2 linked regions of the Homo sapiens genome follow. The protein of the gene in region 1 purifies or fractionates together with the protein of each later gene. This does not show direct contact. Each region holds a gene or a part of one and is shown in the gene's direction. Other genes may lie near its edges.

Evidence for each region.
Region 2: the proteins of CNOT11 (region 1) and MAP4K4 purify together in Homo sapiens (affinity purification with mass spectrometry; one large-scale study listed by BioGRID and IntAct). This does not show direct contact.

The regions. Positions count from the first base shown.
Region 1 is NC_000002.12:101,255,886-101,259,385, forward strand, and holds part of CNOT11 (CCR4-NOT transcription complex subunit 11), read left to right. Parts: intron 1-1,905; coding exon 1,906-2,070; intron 2,071-2,929; exon of another isoform or gene 2,930-3,500. UniProt on the Homo sapiens protein: Component of the CCR4-NOT complex which is one of the major cellular mRNA deadenylases and is linked to various cellular processes including bulk mRNA degradation, miRNA-mediated repression, translational repression during translational initiation and general transcription regulation.
Region 2 is NC_000002.12:101,696,252-101,700,506, forward strand, and holds the start of MAP4K4 (mitogen-activated protein kinase kinase kinase kinase 4), read left to right. Parts: upstream 1-1,455; 5' UTR 1,456-1,829; coding exon 1,830-1,886; intron 1,887-2,013; exon of another isoform or gene 2,014-2,191; coding exon of another isoform or gene 2,192-2,221; coding exon 2,222-2,287; intron 2,288-4,255.

The DNA.
Region 1 (3,500 bases):
CCAGCACTTTGGGAGGCCAAGGCAGGCAGATCACTTGAGGCCAGGAGTTGGAAGCCAGCCTGGCCAACATGACGAAACCCCATCTCTACCAAAAAATACAAAAATTAGCCCGGCATGATGGTGCACTCCTGTAATCCCAGCTACTCAGGAGTCTGAGGCAGGAGAATTGCTTGAACCTGGGAGGCGGAGGCTGTAGTGAGCTGAGATCGCGCCACTGCACTCCAGCCTGAGCAACAGAGTGAGACTGCCTCAAAAAAAAAAAAAATAGTGTAGAAGTTGAGGGATTTTGTGCAACCGGGGTGTAGGGTACATGGATGGGAGAGAAGGTCAAGAAGTGAGATTAGGAAGGTGTGGTGGGACCAGATTTTGAAGGGTCTTGTAATGGTGTAGAAATCTGGGTTTAATTCTGTGTACACAGGTTAAGTAATGTGATCAGATTTGTACTCTAGAGATATAACTAAATGGTAAGAGGAAGTATGGACTATGGGTGGTGGGTGAGCAGGGGTCAAAACTGGGAGCTGGGGAAGTCAGTAGAGGGGGCAGGAGTAGTCCCAGCAAGAGAGGCGTGGGGACTACATCTGAGGGAATGCAGCCTGGTGACATTTCTGCAGTGGGAGAGATGAGGCTTCATGAGCAATTAAACATGGGACAAAAGGGAAGGAACATTCAGCCTTGTGGGAATTTGTAGCTGCATTGTGTGTTGAATCAGGTAGTGTATTTGGATAGCTGCTGGTTGCTCTTCTATTTATTCAACTTCTACACAGTGGAAACAGAGAAGAAAGAAAAGCATTTCCGAGCACTATAGTGTTGTCTGTTTTTGTTTGCATATATAAGCTTTAGCCTTTGCAGGAATTGAGGCACTTTAGAAAATGCAGTTATTGGGCCAGGCGTGGTGGCTCACGCCTGTAATCCCAGCACTTTGGGAGGCCGAGGTGGGTGGATCTCGAGGTCAGGAGATCAAGACCATCCTGGCTAACACGGTGAAACCCTGTCTTTACTAAAAAGTACAAAAAATTACCTGGGCGTGGTGGCGGGCGCCTGTAGTCCCAGCTACTCGGGAGCCAGAGGCAGGAGAATGGCGTGAACCCAGGAGGCAGAGCTTGCAGTGAGCCGAGATTGCACCACTGCACTCCAGCCTGGGCGACAGAGCGAGATTCCATCTCAAAAAAAAAAAGAAAAGAAAATGAAGTTACTAATGTGAGAGTTAAAGAGGAAAGAAACACCAGGCGGGGCACGGTGACTCATGCCTGTAATCCCAGCACTTTGGGAGGCTGAGGCGAGTGGATCACCTGAGGTCAGGAGTTCAAGACCAGCCTGGCCAACATGGTGAAACCCCGACTCGACTAAAAATACAAACATTAGCTGGGCATGGTGGCAGGTGCCTGTAATCCCAGCTACTTGGGAGGCTGAGGCAGGAGAATCTCTTGAACCCGGGAGGTGGAGGTTGCAGTGAGCCAAGATCATGCCATCACACTGCAGCCTGGGAGACAAGAGTGAGACTTCATCTCAAAAAAAAAAAAAAAGCCACAAAACGCAGCTTGGCAGTCAAAGACAGATTTTCTTTAGTTAGAACCTGAGAAGCACTCCTGGCCGATGTTTTAACTAAAGAAAACCTGTCTTTGACTGCCAGGCTGCGTTTTGTGTTTCTTTCCTCTTTCTTTAACTCTTACAGTTAACAAGTACAAAAACCTTAAGTTTCATTTGTAGGGCCACAGATCATAGAATTTCAAATGACATATTACATAGTTTGTAAATGTATATATTTGGTTGACTGAAACTTAATCATAATTTAGTTCTTAAAACTATGTGGCTTGAAGTGGCAAGTAGCAAGTACTGATTTTACCAGATTCAAGTTGATTTTTAAAAGTAACCATTGGAGAAATCGTTATACATTTTTGTTTGCAGGATTTTTACCTCCTATAACTCCACCAGAAAAGTTTTTTCTTTCCCAGCTGATGCTGGCACCCCCACGGGAACTCTTCAAAAAGACGCCTCGCCAGATTGCACTGATGGACGTTGGAAACATGGGCCAGTCTGTGGACATTAGTGGGCTTCAGTTAGCCTTGGCCGGTAAGGAGGAATCAGTGTTTTGGGCATTTCTGTGTGGTAATATTAGGCCTCTCTTGTTGAGGACTCTACTAAAATGATGTTTTTTGTAACTGCTAAAAGGTTAGTATCATCCATTTTAAAAAGTAGTTTTAGTACTGGATCTTAAATGGAAGTCTTGGCTGGGCACGGTGGCTCACACCTGTAATCCCAGCACTTTGGGAGGCTGAGGTGGGCAGATCATTTGAGGTCAGGAGTTTGAGACTAGCCTGGCCAGCATGGTGAAACCCTGTCTCTACTAAATATACAAAAAATTAGCCAGACATGGTGGTGCAGCACGCCTGTAATCCCAGCTACTCAGGAGGCTGAGACAGGAGAATAGCTTGAACCCGGGAGGTGGAGGTTGCAGTGAGCTGAGAACAAACCACTGCACTCCAGCCTGGGCTACAGTGAGACTCCATCTCAATAAATAAATAAATAAATAAATAAATAAATAAATAAATAAATGGAACTCTTTAAATTTTTGGATGCTAATAGCATGTAAATTCATTTGGAGTTTTCACTTGAATTGATTGCTTTTTCTGTTTTAGAAGAAAGCTGGATAAAATTTAGTGGGTTTTTTTTTAAGTTTTGATTGGAAGACTTACTATTTGTTAAAATGTCAATACTACCCAAAACAATCAACAGATTTGGTGCAATTCCTGTCAAAATTCCAACAGTGTTTTTTGCAGAAATAGAAAAATCCGGCCAGTCACAGTGGCTCACACCTGTAATTGGGAGGCTGAGGCACAAGAATCACTTGAACCTGGGAGCTGGAGGTTGCAGTGAGCTGAGATTGTGCAACTGCACTTCAGCCTGGGTGACAGGGCGAGAGTCTGTCTCAAAAAAAAAAAAAAAAAGAAAAATCCATCTTTAAACCAAAGAAAGGCTGGCATAGTAGCTCATGCCTGTAATCTTTGGGAGAGGCCAAAGTGGGAGGATCGTTTGAGGGCAGGAGTTCAAGACTAGCCTGGGCAACATAAGGAAACTTTGTCTCTGCAAATAATTAAAAACTTAGCCGGGCGTGGTGGTGCATGCCTGTGGTCTCAATTACTTGGGAGGCTTAAGTGGGAGAATCACTTGAGCCTGGGAGATCGAGGCTGCAGTGAGCTGTGATTGCGCCACTGCACTCCAGCCTGCACAATATCGTGAGACCTGTCTCGGGATGCTGAATAGCCAAAACCCAACGTTCTCTTGGCATCCTTGTTGAAAATCATTTGCCCATATATGCAAGGGTTTATTTCTGGGCTTTCTATTCCATTCTATTTGTCTATATGTCTGTCTTTCTGCCAGTACCACACTGTTTTGATTACTGTAGCTTTGTACTAAGTTTTGAAATCGGGAGGTATGAGACTTTCAACTTTGTTCTCGTTCAGGATTGTTCTGGCACATTCTGTGTTAAACCTGTAAGCAAA
Region 2 (4,255 bases), 440 kb from region 1:
GCTAACCTGGTGAAAATCCCTGCTCCACTTCCAGGCTGTGCTTTTAAGGAATTTGGACATACTCCTTATCTTTCAGTACTTTGCTTTCCTTACCTAAAAGGAGGATAACATTCCTTCAAGGCTGTAAATAGAGTGCTGTGTGTAAAGCACTCGGCACAACGCGTTTGTGTGGGGGAGACACAGTATGTGCATAAGAATTGGTAGATGATGATGGTGATGTTTATGAAAATCCAATCATGAATAGCCGGAGGCCACTGTTGTCAACGAGTGATCCCTGTAACAGCGACGTTAGCTACACTGAGAACTTACACATGCACATTCTCAGGCCCATTGCAGACCTCCTGAAACGAGAACTCGGGAGGCAGGGCCAGGCAATTGGCACTTTGCCTGAAGCACTCACGTTTTGAGAACACCTGTCAGGTAACAGGGAACCACTGAAAGTTTTTGGACGGTGGAGGAATGCGATATAAATGACTGTTGATTCACTGGCATTAAAGTGCCTAACTACCGACTGGCTTCCGAGGTTGCCGGAAGAAACCTGTTGGTTGATCCTTAGTGATCTCCAGGTTACAAAATGCGGGTTGGTACTAAGGGCCCCAAACACAGTGCTCACCTACCGAGCGCAGCCAGGAGCGCAGCGCCAGACAATTACAGGAGCTGTTTTGGATATGGCCGGGCAGCCCAGCGATGCTCAGCGAATCCCACAACTACAACCACAACCGTACCACACATTTAGCCTGCAAAAGCAGAGAAAGGAAAAGAAAACCGTGCAGGGAAGCCGGAAACGAGGGACTTAAGGGTCTCCTCTCTAGGGTGTGGGAGAGTGGGGGATGGGGCGAATGGGGCGAGGAGGGGGCGAGGATCGAGGGAGGCCCCTCCTCCGCTCGGCAACACCGGGTTCGGGTCCCTCTAGAGCCGGGACGCGGCCGGCGGGACACACCCTTGCCCTGGGAGACGCGAGGGTCCATGGCCTCTTAGTGTCGGTCCAGCTCAGTTTCGTGTCATTTGTTGTTAGCGCGAGGTAGGGGCGTTTCCCCACCCCAGCTCCTCCCCGGGGAAATCCCAGCCCGCTTCCTCCCCGCTCCTGCAGTTTTCGGGAGCGCCGTGCGGGGTCGAGCGCGGAGGCCGCACCCTGGGCGCCGGGCGTCGTGTCGGGACCGCTGCCCGCGCTGCCCGCCGGCGCGGCCATTGTTCGAGCCCCACCCCTGATGAATATTCACGCCGCGCGGGCGCCTCGGCCCGCGCCCTACCCGGCAGGGCTCGGGGTGTGAGTGCGTTTCCGCCGGTTTTTCCTGCCTGAGGAGGAAAGGGGGAGCTGTTTTCTCTCTCCTCAGAATATATTTTTGGTGTCCCGTTTCTCCTCCTCCAGCGCCGCCGCCGCCCCCTCCCTCCCCACCTCGCTCCCCGCCTCCGCCTCCGCCTCCCGGGTTATCTTTGTCTCGCTGCCTCGCGCTCACTCGCTCAACTCGGCGCCGCCGCGGCCCCACGCTCCGGGCCCGTCCTCGAGGCGCGCGGCGCGGGGCGCGGGCGCCGGGGCCTGAGGCGGCGGGCGACGCCCGGGGGCCTGACGGCCGGCCCCGCGCCATGGTGTGAGCGCCGCCGCCCGTGCACGCTCCGTCCGCCCTCCGCGCGGCCCGGCCGGCAGAGAGCCCCGAGCGGCCCGAGAGCGCAGCCGAGCCCGCCGCCGCCGCCCGCGGCCCCGCGAGGAGAGTACCGGGCCGGCTCGGCTGCCGCGCGAGGAGCGCGGTCGGCGGCCTGGTCTGCGGCTGAGATACACAGAGCGACAGAGACATTTATTGTTATTTGTTTTTTGGTGGCAAAAAGGGAAAATGGCGAACGACTCCCCTGCAAAAAGTCTGGTGGACATCGACCTCTCCTCCCTGCGGGTGAGTGGGCCCGCGAGCGGGCGCGCGGGGAGCGGGCAGCCGGCAGCCGGCAGCCGGGGCCGCGCCCAGGTCGGCCGGGCGCTCGGGCGCCGCCGTGGGCAGAGCCGCGGGGCGCGGCGGCCCCTTTGTCTTCCTGTGCGGGCTGGTGCGGGGCGGGCGCTACCCTCTACCGCCCCCACGCCCCGAGCCCGCCGCGCGACCCCCGGGCGCTGGGGGACCGCGCGGGGCGAAGCCCACCTCTTTTGTCACCGCCTTTTCTCTCCAACTGCCTTGCTTGATTTATTCATTTTTTTGGCTTCTTTTAAATGATAACCCCTCCCCTCCTTCCTCTCCAGGATCCTGCTGGGATTTTTGAGCTGGTGGAAGTGGTTGGAAATGGCACCTATGGACAAGTCTATAAGGTCGGTGTGGGCGCCTTCTTTGTTTCCCGTGGCATGTGGAAACTTCTTATTGGGGGACGAGGAGAGGGTGATAAACATGCTGCTGACTGGAGGCCACGCCGCTTGGCCAAAGTTGGGAGAGGGGTTTCTTTCGCCTTGCAGTCCCTCTGTTTTTGCACACCGAGTTTATATTCAGACTGGCCTTAAAAGACCTCATTTCCTGGCTTTGAGATAAGGAAATAAGCTACACTCTTAGGCATGCACTTTACTTCGATAAAATGGAAAAGCATTTTTTAAAAATAAGACAACCTGAATTTTTTCTTTTTTTCCCCAAATCCGGCCTTCTGAGTTTGTGTGTAAATTGAAATACAGTGGAGGCGGGCCTTGCCTCTGACGATCCTAAACCACTGCTTTGGCCATCGTGAAAATTGTCATCATGTTTCAGCCTCCACTCAGTGCTTGCCAGTTGCTCAAGGTGGGGAGTTTGGCGTTACCTGGGAATACTTTATAACTGTGGTTGTCATCCTTTCTATTGATGGATACGTATTTTGGGGAAGCAGGGAGGAGTGTGTGTTTGGGCAACAGCAGCAGGAAGAATTACAGTGTGGGGATTATAAAATCTGAATTCCAGGAATAACCTGTTTGACAGCTGTGTAATTGAAACAGAAATGACAGAGAGCGAAGAGAATATAGAGGATGCCCTGGTTTACACCCACCCAGGTCTTTCTCTTTTTTCAAAATTTTAACACCCACCCTCCACCCCAGCGATAAATGAAACTAGCAAATCTGGAGACTGAGTCTGCGCTGAGTAGCTGACACCTGATGTGACTAACAGTGTTCATTTTATACATTGTACAGTCTAGAGATTATGAAAGATGTGTAGGGAATGGAGGCGCAGGCCTTGAAAATTCAGAACGGAATGTTAAATTTTTCCTGTCTTAATTTGTTTCTCAATACTGAACGTTTTCTAAAAGTTTAATCTGCACTGGGGGAGTGTTCTGTTAGAGTCGGTACAAGGTTAGGGAAGCAGGGCTCTGTGGTTCACCATGAAGAATTGTCATTGTCTCATTAAAAATGGGTGGAGTTGGGGGGGTTGGAAGCCGACTGTAGACCTTTTCTTAGGCTAGATTAAGTGTGGATCTTATTGTCTCTTTTCTGCGTTGTGAGTAGAGTTTATCTATCACTTGAACGCCTCTCCTTAGCCTAGACTTCTAGCCTGGGTAGTGTACTGTACTGGACTGTGGTCCGAACTTGGGTCAGTATTCTTAGGTGATCTCAAGTGTATTAGCTTGTGTTTTGTTGGTTAACTGTTCGGGCCGGGGCCAGATTTTTGAATTTGAAAGAGAGCCCCGTTAACTCAGCTTGCCCGGCTCAACTGAATTTGGAAGGCTTTGGAAAATTTTGGAAAAGATTGTGTTGCAACTCACTGAGTGGTTGGTAACTGGCTAAAAGACATTCTCCCCGGTCTGTTGTTTGTTTAAGCACCAGTCATTTTTTTTCTAACCCAGTTTTTTCTCGCCAAATTAAATGGTGATTGTAGTCTTCCAAGTGAATTAGCCAGAGCTTGTTTTTGACCTGGCTACACAGTAGTTGGATTGTTTGTGTCTTACTTGGTCAGCATGGATGTTAAGGGCAGAGAAGTAAGCTAGAAGGCGATATAGTCTTTAAACCTTAAGAGAAAGGAAAGAATGAAACCCCAGTTTGTCTTTATTGGTTTTAAGAGGTGGGAGCTGTTTATGGTAAGAGTTTAGTCAGGTTCATTGTTATTTCCCCTCATTGCCATTTTGGTTCCATTCCCCGCAACCTTCCCGAGCTTTTGAACTAGGTTTGCTGAGCGCTAGCTACGTTTGGTAGGTATTTGGGATACTGGCATGACACAGCTCTCTGACTACAAAGTCGGTACAGTTGAGAATTTCTCTAATTATGCAAACCTAGGGAATTAAATCTGTGCAAAAGTTGCCTACAGTCCAGAACAAAATAGTGCCTGAG